3 linked regions of the Homo sapiens genome follow. The protein of the gene in region 1 interacts with the protein of each later gene in a pairwise test. Each region holds a gene or a part of one and is shown in the gene's direction. Other genes may lie near its edges. The genes, in order: SLC12A7, TMEM54 and MS4A13.

Evidence for each region.
Region 2: the proteins of SLC12A7 (region 1) and TMEM54 interact in binary tests that used the Homo sapiens proteins (3 or more experiments, as listed by UniProt).
Region 3: the proteins of SLC12A7 (region 1) and MS4A13 interact in binary tests that used the Homo sapiens proteins (3 or more experiments, as listed by UniProt).

Annotation. Positions count from the first base shown.
Region 1 is NC_000005.10:1,049,884-1,053,214, reverse strand, and holds the end of SLC12A7 (solute carrier family 12 member 7), read left to right. Parts: intron 1-763; coding exon 764-855; 3' UTR 856-2,831; downstream 2,832-3,331. UniProt on the Homo sapiens protein: Mediates electroneutral potassium-chloride cotransport when activated by cell swelling. May mediate K(+) uptake into Deiters' cells in the cochlea and contribute to K(+) recycling in the inner ear.
Region 2 is NC_000001.11:32,899,718-32,903,468, reverse strand, and holds the start of TMEM54 (transmembrane protein 54), read left to right. Parts: upstream 1-2,079; 5' UTR 2,080-2,230; coding exon 2,231-2,246; intron 2,247-3,751.
Region 3 is NC_000011.10:60,539,372-60,543,122, forward strand, and holds the end of MS4A13 (membrane-spanning 4-domains subfamily A member 13), read left to right. Parts: intron 1-3,147; coding exon 3,148-3,204; 3' UTR 3,205-3,350; downstream 3,351-3,751. UniProt on the Homo sapiens protein: May be involved in signal transduction as a component of a multimeric receptor complex.

The DNA of each region.
Region 1 (3,331 bases):
GACCGGGATGCAGTGGGGCTCTGAGCCCAGTGGTGACCGGGCCAGAGTTGGGGCCAGCCCTGGCATTGGTGTGGGGGAGGGAGGGCCCGCCTACAGTACCAGCCCCACTGTCCCCAGGTGCTCAGGGCTGCCCTGGGGCTGGGAGGCTCCCTGTCATGCATCCCCACAGCAGCTGTGCATTCTGGGACCTCCGCTGGGGCTCAGCCCCACCCTGCGCCGACAACGGTGGGAGGTGAGGAGCCCAGCTCTCGGCTTTAAGGCCACAATTGGTCGCAGCTTTGGGAATTTGTGCTTTGGAAGGAGAACTCCGCAGTGCATCTGGGCGTATTGGCACAGACAGGGTGACGCCTGGCACATCCCTGCCAGGTTGGCACCAAGAACTGGGGCCAGTGAGGGCATGTCCTCCATGCGTCCTGATCGGAATCCGTGGCCCAGGTCCCCTGTAGGCTGGTGAGGACCCAGTCCCGTGGCTGGGGTTCCCTGTCGGGTGGGGTCAGCACCGTGGGCTGTGTCGCTGTCTCTGCTCGTCCTCCCTGTGGCCACGGTGCTCCCTCTCTTTCCCGAGCACTGGCCCCTCTCTCCCCTGCCCTGCTCCTCCCCGCCTGGGGGGTCTCTCTAATCCCCACCTCTCTTTTCACCTTGGCTCTGGGTTTCTCAAACCAAATCTTAGCTAACCAGGAGAGGATAAACCTCACTCCTATCACGATTTCAGCTACACACGCTCAGGTAAGATCAGCTGTGGCCTTAACTCTGTTGACCACAGACATGGAGTTTCTTGAAGTCCTGACCGAGGGGCTGAACAGAGTCCTCCTGGTCAGGGGTGGCGGCCGGGAGGTGATCACCATCTACTCCTAATGCCCAACAGCATCACGGCACTCTGGGACAGGCACGGAGGACGGCGTGGGCAGCCTGGGCCTGGGCTTGGCCCAGGGAAACAGACGGCAGACACACCTGTCCCCCAGTGATGCCGCCCAAGCTGCCCATGGGGCTTCCTACGGAAGTTTCTAGGCCCGTCACCTAGGGCTCTCCTGTTCAGCCTTAACAGGCTCAGCAAATCAGGGCGTGGCTGGACGATTTCCTTGCATCTGAGGGCAGACGCTGCTACCGGAGTGACCTGGACGTGGCCAGATCTTCTCGCAGGTCACAAGAAGCCAGTGAGCCCTTGCCTTGGTTTCTGGAAGTTCTTTTCCTTGGCTGGATTTACCCAGTGGTTAGGTTGCATTTCTACCCCATCCAGAACATTCTTGGAAGAGCACCCGGAGCTGAAGCTGTCCCTGATGATGAAGGTGAAACGTCAGCCCTGGCCATGGCTCCGCTCAGGGCCCCGGTCACCTCCGAGTCACTCTGTTCCTTGACTGTCTTTGTGTTTCTGTACCTCAAGGCACTGAAGCTGGAGGACTCTGTCCATGCCCGTGTCACCCTCGTGTGGGAGCCTCTGGGCTCGGCAGGTCCACATTTCATGAGCTGAGGCGTGGGCCAGGGCCATCTGGAAAGGGAACTCGGCTTTTCCAGAACGTGGTGGATCATCTGTCGGGTGTGTGGTGAACACGTTCAGTTCATCAGGGCCTACGCTCCGGGAAGGGGCCCCCAGCTGTGGCTCTGCCATGCCGGGCTGTGTTTGCAGCTGTCCGAGTCTCCATCCACCTTTAGAAAACCAGCCACTTCTTTTCATAAGCACTGACAGGGCCCAGCCCACAGCCACAGGTGCGATCAGTGCCTCACGCAGGCAAATGCACTGAAACCCAGGGGCACACGCGCGCAGAGTGAACAGTGAGTTCCCCCGACAGCCCACGACAGCCAGGACTGCCCTCCCCACCCCACCCCACCCCAGGAGCACGGCACACAGTTCAGCCTCTGAGCTGGCTCACACGTGCCATCCCCACCCCGGTGCTCCAGGGAAGGAGGACACGGACCCGACGTGGGAGGTCCTCAGGCAGCAGTGGCGCCTGGTGTCAGGTCTGTCTGGCTGAGTCCCGGGCGTCCCCTGCCATGGCCTGTGCCTTGCATGGAGGCGGCGGTGGCACTGAAGAGATAGCTTTCAAGGGCCCAACACTTTGCACTTCGGCTGGCTGTGAGTTTCTGCTTTGTAGGTTGTGGTCACATTTGCAGGCTGCGGGCAGTGGCACCGACTTGGGCCTCCCTTTCTATGTGGCATATTTATTTATTTAAACACCCCAGGGAGTTACGTGGTAACAAGGTTGTCCATAAAGAGGTTGCTTCTATATACTAGAGGCCCCAGATGGCCAGGCCTTGGGCTACGTCTGGCTTGCATGGTCTCCCAAGGGAATCAGCCCCATCAACAAAGTTCAAATCGGGGCAGAGGCTGCACTTGTGCCCCCAGATGTTTCTGAGGAGCCAGACTAGGGCTGGCATTGCTGTAGAGTGACGGCTGCTGCCCAGAGCGTGTCCCAGACATCACAGCGGGGCTCAGCAGTTCCCACAGCCTCTGCCTGCCTTGGCTAAGCATGAGTTAAGCAGCAAAACGCTCCTCCATGTCTGGATGGGGCCGGCAGGTCCTGTGTCCCCTGCACCTGGAGGAGAGCAGGCTAGAGGCACAGCGGCCACATGGTGCTGGCTCTGAACGTTGGTTGGTGGCTGGAAAACAGCCCTGCTTCTGAGGGCCGCTCAGTTCTGCACACGAAACCACCTCCTGAGGGCTCAGCTCTGCCCCCGCCCTGGGCTGCAGCCTCTGCACGCAAGCACCAGGCATCCTTTGTGTTGTCAACTCCGTGTAACCAGTAACTACAGCCATTTACAATTGACTCCGTTTCCTTTTGTAGGTTTCCCTGTCTGTCTGTGTTAGTAGAAAAATAAAATCCTATGAAATCTGAGTACGTTGAAGAATCTCTTGAGTCTCATTCAGCATGAAAGACAGCTGGAGAAAATGTACTGGCCGCCCCTTTTCTAGCAGGAGCGTCAGGGCTGACCAGCCACAGCCAACTCAGGTGGCTGAAGAGTGACCATATGAATTGGACGAGGGCTTCCAAATCATGTCATCGGCTTGGAAATGACCTTACCCCAAACTTCCTAGTGCTGTGTGTTGAAGTGACCCAATCTCTGTATTTCTGAGACAGTCTCTGTTGCCTAGGCTGGAATGCAGTGGCGTCACCTCAGCTCACTGCAACCTCCGCCTCCCAGGTTCAAGCTATTTTCCTGCCTCAGCCTCCCGAATAGCTGGGATCACAGGCGTGTACCACCACGCCCAGCTAATTTTTGTATTTTAGTAGAGATGGGGTTTCACCATGTTGGCCAGGCTGGTCTCGAACTGACCTCAAGTGATCTGCCTGCCTCAGCCTCCTAAAGTGCTGGGATTACAGGTATGAGCCACCAT
Region 2 (3,751 bases), on another chromosome or scaffold:
ACAGTTACAAGTGTCTGAACATTTTTTTTTTTTTTTGAGACGGAGTCTCACTCTGTCACCCAGGCTGGAGTGTAATGGCCCGATCTCGGCTCACTGCAAGCTCCACCTCCCAGGTTCACGCCATTCTCCTGCCTCAGCCTCCTGAGTAGCTGAGACTACAGGCGCCCGTCAACACGCCGGCTAATTTTTTTTTTTTTTTTTTTTTTTTTGTATTTTTAGTAGAGACGGGGTTTCATCGTGTTAGCCAGGATGGTCTCGATCTCCTGACCTCGTGATCCGCCCACCTTGGCCTCCCAAAGTGTTGGGATTACAGGCATGAGCCACCGCACCCGGCCACAAGTGTCTGAACATTTATAATATGAGTAAGTACTACCCAAATTGCCCTACTAAAAGATTGTCTGAGGACATCAACATTCCGATGCCAGCCCGATGTCTTCATAAACTGCCCCCATCTTCCCTTCCACCTGACAAATATGTCTCCCCACCCGGAATTCCCTGCACATTATCCCCCTTCAGACAGCAGGTGACAGGGAAGCAGCTCTGCTGGGGGGTTACCAGATGGGATGCCCCGGGGGGCTTCCTAGGAGAAATGGCTCCACTTCCTCCCATGGTGTTAATGCGTTCTCCAAACTCCAGAGGCTCTACATCTGACCCAACTGCCCAACACACACAGCGCCGCAGGTGTCAGCACAGGTGTGCAGAAAGACACACAGACAGTGGACAGCCCCCAGGACAGGCTCCAACCAAGCACCCAGAGACAGCCAGCCAGCCCCTGACCTCTGGGACACTGCCCAGTGGGGTAAGTGGGGCAAGCTGTGAACAGATGTTGCCCAGTTCCCATAGTAAGTGCCTCCAAGGACCGAAAGAGCCCAGGGAGGTGGCCACGGTGTGGCCACTCTACAGAACTTGGGCACAGAGACCCAAGGGGATTCCAGGCTCCTGCCTACTCCACCACTTCCAGCTGGTGGTCTTGGGTGAGTGGTCTGTGGTCTCTGAGCCCAAAGGTGCAGGAATGGTACCTATGCCAAAGGGATGCTGAGACTAACAAGGGACCTCACTGGGGTCCATCCTGACACATTAAAGGGCTCAGCAACCCAGAGCAGTACTAATAAAGCTCCTACTATGTGCTCTTGCTAGGTCTACACTTTGTCCATACAGACAGTCTGGAGAGTTTCCAAAGCGTGTTGTTGTTGTTTTGTTGTTTTGAGATGGAGTGGCGAGATCTCAGCTCACTGTAACCTCTGCCTCCCGGGTTCAAGCGATTCTCCTGCCTCAGCCTCCAGAGTAGCTGGGATTACAGGCTTGCCCCACCACATCCGGCTAATTTTTGTATTTTTAGTAGAGACGGGGCGGGGGGGGGGGTGCGGGGGTGTTTCACCATGATGGCCAGGCAGGTCTCGAACTCCTGACCTCAGGTGATCTGCTTGCCTAGGCCTTCCAAAGTGCTGAGATTACAGGCATGAGCCGCCGCGCCCGGCCGAAAGCGCTTTCTTACCTAATTTTTGTATCCTATTTTGTCTCACCACGACCTTCGGGGACAGGAATTATCCCTGATTTTCCAAGGACGGAACTGAAGGCCCTCCCGACTAAGAAGGAGACTTAAAGCGCCTTTTTCAGCGTGGAAGACAAGACTCGCGGGCGCTAAAGGCAAGCGCAGAGAGGGGAGGCGATTTGCCTGAGGTCACACAGCAGGCAGGGGCAGACCCCAATCCCCAGCAGCTCTTTCACTGCCCCTGCTGCCCCTCTCCGTCCCAGCCTTGGGCCCGGGGGCTTTCCGCCCAAGAGCCACACCCAAGTCACGGTAACCACAGCTACGCCGGCAACCCCCAACTTGCCGCGGGCCCGCGCGGGGCGGCTCCTCAGAGCCTCAGTTTCCCTTTCTAGAGCGGGCCCGCCGCCGCCGGTGGGCTGAGGGAGGGCGGCTCGGCGCCGGGCGGGCCGGGCGGGGCGGCGCCTGACTCAGCGGGCGGGCCATGGGCTGCTCAGCCGGTCCGACCGGCCGGGAGGGGCACGAGCCGCGGGGGCGCTGCGGGGCCGGGCGGCCCGGGGGGTGACGGGAAGGGAGGCCGGTCCGGCGCCGCCCAGCCCCGGGCTCCGGGCGGGAAGTGGGCGAGCGCGACGGTGCGGGGCGCGCGGGCGACGGGCCAGCGGGATGGGAGCAGGGTCCCCCGGCGGCCCGCAGCCTCGGGAGCCGCGCTGAAGCCGGGGGCGGGACCAGCGCGGAGCCGACATGTGTCTGCGCCTCGGTGAGCGACTGGGGGCGCGCGGGAGGCCCCGAACCACCCCAACCCTCCCACAGGAGCGGAGCACTGAGCCCGGAACCCGAGCCCCCAGGGGGCCAGGCCACCTGCTCTGCCTCTAACTTACTACGAGGCCGGGGTCGGGTCACTTTCCTCTCTGGGCCTCAGTTTCCCCAGCAGTGAAATGGAGGGGAGGAGCGCTGCGGGTGTCTTCTCGATGTGGCTGTAGCGTCTCTTACCCTCGCCCTCTCTTGCCTTTCCTGCGGAGGCGCACGACTGCCCTCGGGGACCCCCGGGTGGGCGGCAGAGGAGACGCTGGAGAGAGCAGCCCCATCTTACCCAGAAGGGACCCCGGGGCCAGGCCTCAGCTTCCCCACCCTTACAAGGGGCTCCCACTTACATACTCTCCACTCTCCCGAGGCCAGGAAGGAAAGCCGTGGGCAAAAAGGATCAGCAGCGGGGGAGCGGGACTAATGTGCCCCCTCCTTCCACTGCCTGGGCACGGTGATGCTGCTTGTGGGCAGCAGAGTCCTGGGGCATCCCCGCTGTCTAGCCGAGAGACCTTGTGAGCCTCAGTTTCTTTGTCTGTAAGAGGGGGACAGTAGTTCCCACCTCCTAGGACTACTATGAGGATGAGGGCAGCTTCTAAGAGTAAAGCGCTTAGCACCTTGCCGGCTGCGCTGCTATGCGCTCCCACAGTGGTAAGACAAATGAAGCCAGCTGGGCTTCATCTGGGAGGCAGCACTCTGGGAGGCCGAGGCAGGCGGATCGCTTGAGTCCAGGAGAGACTAGCCTGGCCAACATAGTGAAATCCGTCTCTACAAAAAATTTAAATAAAGAAAAAAAAATTTAGCCCGGCTACTCAGGAGGCTGAGGTGGAAGGATCACCTGAGCCCAGGAGGCAGAGGTTTCAGTGAGCCACGATCAGGCCAGTGCACTCCAGCCTGGGCTACAGAGTAAGACCCTGTCTCAATCAATTTAATTTAAAAAGTCAAGGACTGCTCCAGGCTCAGTCCAGTGCTCCAGGCACAGCCCCATGCTGGCACCGTGCCTCCTCTTTGACCAAAGTCTTGGTCCTGGGATGCTGTTGTTATTGAGTCCAGCCCTCAGCTGGAAGGTAGACACCGAGCTCCCAGGTAGGTGGGTGGAGGGGGTGAGGTGGGTCAGGCTCCTGCGCTGAAGCTGCCATGCCCCTTCCTGCTTGGCTGGCAGTCCATCTTCACAATGCTATTCCAGTCTCATGGTGCCTGTCCAGCCCATCGTCTGCCCTCTGCTTCTGCTAGACCTGGTTCAGCTCCAGAGGGTCCTGCAGTCTCCAGGGGTCTCAGACACTGGCTGGACCAATGCCTCCCCATTTTATAGATGTGGAACTTGGGGCCCAGAGGGGAGGGGCTGGTGCATGGTCACACAGCAAGTCTGTGACTGAATAGCCCCATCCCTTCCTGCTCCCTGGGGACTGTCTCTTGGCACAGCTTCAGACAGATGTCCCAGAGCGTCCAGTGTAGAGATTT
Region 3 (3,751 bases), on another chromosome or scaffold:
GGTGAGCTGACAAAAAACAAAATAAACAGACATAAAGAGAGCAAAAAAGATATTGCCCAGTCCGAAGAACAGGAAAAAAAGAAAATGAAGAAAACTGTACAGAACCTCAAAATCCTTTGAGATACCATCACATGTATAATGGGAGTCCCATAAAAATGGGGAGTACCAGAAAAAAAATTAAAGAAATAATGGCTCCCAAATTCCCCTAATTTCATGGAAAACATTCAATACATCCAAAAAGCTCAAGGATCTTCAAGTAAAATAAACACAAAGAGATCCTCCTAGACACCTCCATGTCAAACTGATAAAAAAGAAAATCTTGAAAGCAGCAAAAAAAAATAAAAACAAGACTCTTCATATATAAGGGAACCACAATAATATAAACAGCTGGGTTCTCATCCAAAACAATGGAGGCCTGAAGGTAGTGGAATGGGATATTAAAGTGCAGGGGGAAAAACAGTCAGGCAGGAATTCTTTATCCTTTAAAACTATCCCTCAAAAATGAAGGTGAAATACAGACATACACAGATGAATAATGTGTTGCTAGCAGAAATTCCTCATGAGAAACACTAAAGGAAGTTCTTTAGACTGAAGTGACATCAGATGAAACTCAAATGCACATGAATAAATAAAAAAAGTGCCAGTAAAAGTAATTATGTAGGTGGTTATGAAAATCAGTATAAATACATCTTTTGTGTTTTCTTCTGTTAACTGATTTAAAAGACAGTAGCATTAATTGCATTGGGCTCACCCAGGTAATCCAGGATGATTACCTTAATTTAAGGTCGTGTTATTAGTAACATTAATTCCATCTGTCATAACTACTCAGCTCCACCTTTTAGCATGAAAGTATTCATAGACAATACATAAAGGAATGGATATGGCTTGTTCCAGCAAAACTTTATTTGCAAAAACGGGAGTGGGCTAGATTTGGTCCATGTATCATAGCTTGCCAACCCTTCTTCAATAGACAGTTTCTCAATTTTTCTCTTAAATTTTAAAAGATAAGATTATAAAAGCAGTAATTATAACACCATATTGGTAGTTACATAATATATATAGATAGAATAGATGACAATAATAGCACAAAGAAAAGGAAAGGGAATGAGTTATATGGGAATAAAGTTGCTGTATTTTACTGGAATTGAATTAGCATTCATCTGAAGTAGACTGTGATAAATTAGGGTGCTTATTTAGTGATTAAGCAAGCTAAAAATATAATAGCTTAAAAACAAGGGAATTAACATACACAAAGTATGTTTAATTTTTAAAAAATAAAGAAAGAACACAATGGCCAGGCTTGGTTGGTTAACACCCATATTCCCAGCATTTTGGGAGGCCAACTCGGGAAGACCATATGAGCCCAGGAGTTCAAGACCAGCCTGGGCAACATGACGAGACCTCATCTCTACAAAAAAGTAAAAATAAAAACACTAGCTATGCATAGTGCCACATGCCTGTGGTCCCAGCTACTTAGGCAGCTGAGGTGGGAGGATCACTTGGAACCCAGGAGGTCAAGGCTGCAATGAGCCATATTCAGGCCACCGTACCCCAGTGTGGGTGACAGAGTAAAACCCTATCTCACAAAAAAAAAAAAAAAGGAAAGGAAAAGAAAACACATGAGACGTGTATAAAACAAATAATAAAATGTCAGATATAAATCTATTCATTGTAATAATAACATTAAAATGACAGAGATATTTTAAAGTACCTACTGGAATGACTGAATTTCAAACTATTGACAATGCCAACTGATAGCAAAGATTGTAGATAAAAGAAATATCTCTCAAACTCCTAGTTGAAATATAAGTTATTGCAACAATTTTTAAAACCTTTTGGGCATTACCTACTAAAAATTAAAATGTGCATACCCTATGATCAGTAATTTAAGTCTTTGGTATATAACCAACAGAAATGTTTGCGCTTATGCATTAAGATAAACTTCCAGGAATATATAGAGAGCAGTATTATTCATAGTAGTCCCAAAGTGGAAACAACACAGGTGGGTGAGTGATGAATAAGTTGAGGTGTATTACTTCATTCAAATTTGACATGGTGATTAAAAGCAACTATACCTGCACTTAACATCATGGATGGATCTTACAAATAAAATGTTGAGTATAAAAACTCAAAAGAATGCATACTTGTAAAAAAATCCATTCATATGAAGTTTGAAACCAGGTAAAACTAAAGCTAACCTATAGTGTTTAGGGATGAAGCTTAGTTCATGAAACTAGAAAAAAAATTGACCTTATCTAAAAGTCAAAATGACCATTACCTTGAAGGGAAGGAATAGGTAATGGTTGAGAAATGTCATGAGAGGCTAGGGTGCTGGCATCTATTAAGATTTATGTTCAAGAAGACTATGGTTATTTTTATTATAAAAGTTTGAAGGTACACCAAAAGATACAAGTGATCCAACAGAAATTAAGAAAGTAGGTTGAAGGCTGGGCATGGTGGCTCACACCTGTAATCATAACACTTTGGGAGTCTGAAGCAGGAGGATCACTTGAGGCCAGGAGTTCAAGATCAGCTTGGTCAACATGGTGAAACCCCGTCTCTACTAAAAATACAAAAAAATTAGCCAGGCATGGTGGCACAGGCCTGTAATCCTAACTACTCGGGTGGCTGGGGCATGAGAATCTCTTGAGTCTGAACCTGAAAGAGAGGTGGTTGCAGTGAGCCGAGATCGCACCACTGCACTCCAGCCTGGGCGACATGACCTTGAAAACAGAACAAGACCTTGAAAAAAAAAAAAAACCCAAGGAAGGAAGGAATGTAGGAAGGAAAAAGAGAGAGAGAGAAAGAAAGAAGAAAGGGAAGAAAGGGAGGAAGGGAGGAAGGAAAGAAAGAAAGGAAGGAAGGAAGGAGAAAGAAAAAGAGAAAGAAAGAAAGAAAAAGGAAAGAAAGAAAGAGAAAGAAAGAAGAAAGGGAGGAAGGGAGGAAGGGAAGAAAGAAAGAAAGAGAAAGAGAAAGAAAGGAAGAAAGAAATAAGGTTGAAATAGGAATGGGACAGAAATAGGATACTTTAAGATTTCACTCTATAAATATCAGTATTACCTGTATTTTTTAAGAAAAAGATCTATTTATTAGTTGTATAATATTAAGAAACATGATATGATTTGTAAGAGGTTACTTTTTTTCCAGTTTCGAAGACAAAATGATCTTACATCTGTTACTGAGGAAGCTGAGAGCACTCCTTAAAAACCCTAGAAATATGAGAATTTTGCTGTTGCTGATGCCTGGTGTGGGTCCTAATGATATCTCTGTATAACAAAGCAGTTACGAAGCCTACAGATTTTGTGCAAAATAAAATACAAACAAGGTGAATTTTTCTCCTCATTCAAAAATGTCTCTGCTTATATTTTTCTAGGCTGCAAGGAAAGTTTTTCCCTATTTAAATATGAGATTATTACAGGATGAATGTGTTATCTAGGTACGCTGAATAGCTGTCAACTCTCCATAATAAAGCTTTTGTAAGAGACTGTAAAAAAGATTCATTATTATCTCTAGAGTGAAGGCTATAAAGACTTGGGCCATGATGTCGTATAATTCACAGGAAAACTTTAAATACTTATGTCCATACAAGCAGAAAGCACATTTTACAGTCTGAGTTCTTCTACTTTAACTAGCTTCTATCAAAGTATGAATCAAAAGGCCTCTAATTCATATTTCCTTCATTGTTCTTTGACTTCTCTTCTCCTTATTTAAAGTTCCTTTCTGCCCTGAACATATCTGCTATCTTTCTTAT